Homo sapiens: one gene and its partner. The protein of the gene in region 1 purifies or fractionates together with the protein of each later gene. This does not show direct contact. Each region holds a gene or a part of one and is shown on either strand. Other genes may lie near its edges.

Region 1 (2,488 bases):
GTAACAGGCACTGTTAAGCTCACTTAATCACCCCCATAACCCTAAGAGGTAAATAGTTTTCCCAAACTCACACAGCTAACAAGTGGCAAGATAAAAATCTAGACCCAAGTTTGCAGGTTACCAAACCTCATACTATACTATCTTGCTATTAAGCCATAGTTATTTTTATATTCAGCAGCTTTGGTCAAATTCTTCTTTTAATACCATGTATAATTCTATATATCACAGCTTCCATGTGGAAAGTGATGTCTTACAACTACTTTAAGATACTAAAAAGGTCCTTCTATACACGCACTCTTAACTGACTTTCTTATCCTCAGTAATTCCAGAGTAAAAGGAAATGTACTTTTGGCTGTCTTCATTCTTGCAGTTAAATGGAAATACTGACCATTTTAGGCTGACCTCATGGGAGTACGAAGGGGCAAATGTGCTGAGCTGGGTGAAGTTCTCTTGAAAACTCTGTTCCCACCCCACTTCATTTTTTCTTGTCTCCCTCTTTGACCTCTCATGCATAGTTCTCAGATTAAAACCAGCAGAAACATGTGGACAGGACTGTGAGCTTCTAGGATTCTGAGAAATTTGCATTGCTTTTGTATACTCGATTGTACTAGCTGAGTTTAAATACTCCAGAAGCAAATTATTCACCTGGAATCTCTTCTAGCATCATCCAGGGGTATATGCTGTGTATTTTAGAGAGTTCTTCTCCTGTTCTTTACCATAAAATTGTAACATTTTAGTTTTATGGAATTTCTGTTTCCATAAATACTACTGGAATGGAGAACTTTTGAACTCAATGTGATTTGGAAGAGAAAAATTAGCCATTGTATATTTTGCTCTCACCATCAACTTCCCTTTCTCCCCCCGCTCCCCCACCCCCCGCCACATACCCAATTCTTTTACATATGAAATTACACAGATAGAAGGAAATATCAGCTTAGGGTGCTAGTTTCACTATTTGGTATAAAAGTGTTGAAACTGGCCTGTATGTAAGCTTCATAGAAATCTGACCGTTTACATGGAGGGAAACAAGGGAAGAGGACGGTTGCCTCCCCCACTCAAAGGTTGGAATTGTAGTACAGATACTCGTGGAAATCATCAATGGTAGTATTTGGGTAAAGTCTGGGATTCCCAAAGCTGAATGTTTTTGGTAAAAGAGAAGTGAGGAACTAGAAGGATCTGAGTATGCAGATAAGTTGGGGAAGGAGAAATGGCAGCAACAGAGAAAAGTGAAAGAAGAAAAACGGGATAGAAATGGCAATGAGAAGGTATTTAGTATAAAAGAGAAGTGGGGTGGAATGAGAAGAAAGTATAAGAGAAAAGGAGAGGATAAAGACTGAAAGAAAGGGGCCAGAAGGGAAGAAAAAGGAGAGGTGTGGCACTTCTTACTTATGCTTGAGTGGATGAGCTGCTGTTCTTGGAAGCGTACGAGGAAGTTGAAGCACATAGAGGAAACTGCCGTGCTCAGTGTGCAAGCAGCAGAGGACTCCATGCCTCCATGCCTCTGTTAACCTGCTGTCATCAGTGCAAGGTAAAGACACCCTCCCCTGACCAGCATACAAATCACCTGTTCAAATCTGTTTTGCTTTAGGCTGCCCAAAGACACGAGACTTTAACAAGCTTGAACTTAGAAAAGAAAGCTCGTCTGAAAGAGGAAGCAGCTATGAAGGCCAAAACAGAGTAGCAGAGGTATCCGTGTTGGCTGGATTTTGAAAATCCAGGAATTATGTTATAACGTGCCTGTATTAAAAAGGATGTGGTATGAGGATCCATTTCATAAAGTATGATTTGCCCAAACCTGTACCATTTCCGTATTTCTGCTGTAGAAGTAGAAATAAATTTTCTTAAATAATGACTGTGTTTTATTGTTTTGATCCAAGTCAAGTGTAGCCTCTCAGCCTTTTGGAGAAAAATGAAACAATTTATTTCAACTTGAATACCAACTCTTCAGAGAAGCAGGTACCATATCTTACTTCTCTTCCCATTATCAAAGTAACCTCTCCACAGGCGAACTCATTTTGAGGAGATAAGGAAGGCCAGTTGAGTATATGGCCCAGGTGCAGCTTGGAGGGCCAGCCTTCTCAAATGTCCTGGTGTACTGGTGGGGAGGCTGCCCCCTAATAGAGCGAGCGCTGAGAAGCAGCCAGACCACATTCTATAATCTTTGAACATGCTGGCAGATGGAGGCTTTTAGGAGAATAGTTTTTTAAACATTCTGACAAGGTCCAGCCAGGAATTTCTAAGGACTTAGAAATCCCAGCGTCATGGAGTTGCTTGGGGTCAACACAAGTCACCTCTTAGCTTCATGCCTTAGAATTCTCAACTGGCTGTTTTCTTACCACCTGAGAAACTAAATTTCTCAATTATAAAAATCTCATGTATTATTACTGTTAGAAGTATTTGCACCTCATATATATCTCATTTACAGTTTGACCTTGGGATATCGAGTTGTCTCATATTTAGGTATGAATACAGGTTTCTATTTTAAACA
Region 2 (3,662 bases), about 110 Mb from region 1:
TTTTTTTTTTTGAGATGGAGTCTTGCACTGTTATCTGGGCTGGACAGTGCAGTGGTGCAATCTCGGCTCAGTGGAACCTCTGCCTCCTGGGTTCAAGCGATCCTCATGCCTCAGCTTCCCCAGTAGCTGGGATTACAGGCATGCACCACCACACCCAGCTAATTTTTGTATTTTAGTAGAGATGGGGTTTCACTATGTTGGCCAGGATGGTCTCTGTCTCTTGACCTCATGATCTGCTGGCCTTGGCCTCCCAAAGGGCTGGGATTACAGGCGTGAGCCACCATGCCCGGCCGAAAAGTTCATATTTAAAACATTTTTGCTGTTTGAATGAACTTCTGGAGCTGCACTGGCAAGTATAGTAGCCACGAGCCGTATGACTTGTTTACATTTAAATTAATTAAAATTAAATAACATTTAAATCATAGTTTATCAGTTTGTAGTAGCCACATTTCAAGTGCTCAGTAACCATGTCAGTAGTGGCTACCGTATCATACTGCAAATGCAGAACATTTCTATTACTATACAAAGTTCTGTTGGATAGTACTGTTCTAGAAGTTTAGTTTACTTGGTGGTAATTACTTATTTTCAAGTCTGTCTTAAACAGAAATTTTTAAGAAATTATTTTATAAGTGTAAAATGGTGAACTGAATTATATTGAGATACCTTTTTCCCGAGTGGTTTAAGCTTAGAAAGTCACACTGAAGGGTAAAACATTCAAGTTCAATATTTATTTATTTGGAGTCTCACTCTGTCGTCTCCATGCTGGAGTGCAGTGGCACCATCTCGGCTCACTGCAAACTCCACCTCCCAGGTTCCAGCGATTCTCCTGCCTCAGCCTCCCAAGTAGCTGGCACTACAGGTGTGCACCACCATACTCAGCTAGTTTTTATATTTTTTAGAGACAGGGTTTCATCATGTTGCCCAGGCTGGTCTTGAACTCCTAGACTCAAGTGATCCATCTGCCTCAGCCTCTCAAGATGCTGGGATTACAGACGTCAGCCACCGTGCTCAGCCTCAAATTCAGTTTTAAAAGATTTTGGGGACCAGGCGCGGTGGCTCATGCCTGTAATCCCAGCACTTTGGGAGGCCGAGGCGGGTGGATCACCTGAGGCCAGGAGTTGGAGACAAGCCTGGCCAAACATGGTGAAACCCCGTCTCTACTAAAAATACAAAAATTAGCCGGGTGTGGTGGCACATGCCTGTAATCCCAGCTACTTGGGAGGCTGAGGCAGGAGAATCACTTGAATCCGGGAGGCGGAGGTTGCAGTGAGCCGAGATCACACCATTGCACTGCAGCCTGGGGAACAAGAACGAGACTTCGTCTCAAAAAAAAAAAAAAAAAAGACAAAAAAAAAAACACAAAACATTTTGGGCAGAGCACTGCATTCAGAATTACTTTCCTATCAAAGATCAGTCGACGTTATATTTATTTGTTAAGAAATGAAAAAAAAACCTTTTTTCATACAAAAATGAACTCAGCAGTCAAAAATTTGCTTCTGTATACCATTAACTTGATTTAGTCCAGATGTAGTCCAGATCAAAATAAGTGGTTAGAGACATAAGGTGTGAAAATGATAGGTACCTTATTTCTCACAAGAAATCCGATATCTTTCTTTTTTTGGGCCAGGCATGCTGGCTTATGCCTGTAATCCCAGCACTTTGGGAGGCCAAGGCAGGCAGATTGCTTGAGCCCAGGAGTTCAAGACCAGCCTGGGCAACATGGTGAAACCCCATCTCTACCAAAAAAAAATACAAAAAATTAGCCGGGTGTGGTGGCATCTGCCTGTAGTCCCGGTTACTTGGGAGGCTGTGGTGGGAAGATCACCTGAGCTTAGGAGGTTGAGGCTGCAGTGAGCCCTGATCATGCCACTGCACTCCAGCCTGAGCAACAGAGTGAGATGCTATCTCAAAAAAAAAGTGTGTATATATATACACACACGCACATATATATGTGTGTATATATACACACATATATACGTATGTGTGTATGTGTGTATATATACATATATACGTATGTGTGTGTATATATACACACACATATATGTATATGTGTGTGTATATATACACTTTTTTTGAGATAGCATCTCACTCTTGCCCAGAGTATATATGTACATATGCGTACATGTGTATACACGCACACATGTGCGTACATGTGTATACACGCACACATGTGCGTACATGTGTATACACGCACACATGTGCGTACATGTGTATACACGCACACATGTGCGTACATGTGTATACACGCACACATGTGCGTACATGTGTATACACGCACACATGTGCGTACATGTGTATACACGCACACATGTGCGTACATGTGTATACACGCACACATGTGCGTACATGTGTATACACGCACACATGTGCGTACATGTGTATACACGCACACATGTGCGTACATGTGTATACACGCACACATGTGCGTACATGTGTATACACGCACACATGTGCGTACATGTGTATACACGCACACATGTGCGTACATGTGTATACACGCACACATGTGCGTACATGTGTATACACGCACACATGTGCGTACATGTGTATACACGCACACATGTGCGTACATGTGTATACACGCACACATGTGCGTACATGTGTATACATGTGTATATGTATACAAGTGTATATACAAGTGTATATGTATACAAGTGTATGTATACGTGTGTGTATGTATACGTGTGTGTATGTATACGTGTGTCTACATGCATACGTGTGTGTATACGTGTGTCTACATGTATACACGTGTGTGTATACGTGTGTCTGTATGTATACATATATATAGAGTATACTCTGGTGCCCAGAGTATATATACATATATGTATACATATATATACGTATGTATACATATACACGTATGTATACGTATATATGGATCCATATATACACGTATGTATACGTATATACGTATGTATACATATATACACGCATGTATACATATATACGTATGTATACATATATACATGCATGTATACGTATATACGTATGTATACATATATACACGTATGTATACGTATATAGTGTGTATATATACGTATATAGTGTGTGTATATATACGTATACGTATATACGTATATATACGTATATAGTGTGTGTATATATACGTATGTAGTGTGTGTATATATACGTATATAGTATATACTATAGGTATATAGTGTGTATATATATACACTATGTATATAGTGTGTGTATATATACACGTATATACGTATATATACACTATATACATATATAGTGTATACACTATATACGTATATGTGTGTATGTATATATATCGCGATATATATATATCGCCTTGTTTTTTAATTAAAAATATTCTAATAATTGTTTTATCAGTTATAGTAAAGACTTGTATGTCCTTCCTTTGAAGTCCAAGATTGCCATGTTTCACACTAAAGTGTTATGAATCAGTTGTTACATTTGACCTGATTTTAATAAATTCTGTTTTGCTTTTAGGCCAGGAGTCTGCCTTGTTGTTTCTGGCCCAGGTCTCATCCATGCCTTGGGCGGTATGGCAAATGCAAACATGAACTGCTGGTAATGACATTATTATTACTGAAAACATTTTCTTAAAAAGGTCACTGCAGGATTTTACTGAGTAGAGCTAATGCTGATCTAGGGTAGAAAGACTTGGAAAAAAAAAACCCCTTCAATTCTTA

What was found. The genes of interacting proteins can lie anywhere in the genome.
Region 2: the proteins of FAM162A (region 1) and HACL1 fractionate together in Homo sapiens (co-fractionation; one large-scale study listed by BioGRID). This does not show direct contact.

What each region holds. Positions count from the first base shown.
Region 1 is NC_000003.12:122,408,151-122,410,638, forward strand, and holds part of FAM162A (protein FAM162A), read left to right. Parts: intron 1-1,588; coding exon 1,589-1,681; 3' UTR 1,682-2,488. UniProt on the Homo sapiens protein: Proposed to be involved in regulation of apoptosis; the exact mechanism may differ between cell types/tissues.
Region 2 is NC_000003.12:15,591,478-15,595,139, reverse strand, and holds part of HACL1 (2-hydroxyacyl-CoA lyase 1), read left to right. Parts: intron 1-3,459; coding exon 3,460-3,540; intron 3,541-3,662. UniProt on the Homo sapiens protein: Peroxisomal 2-OH acyl-CoA lyase involved in the cleavage (C1 removal) reaction in the fatty acid alpha-oxydation in a thiamine pyrophosphate (TPP)-dependent manner.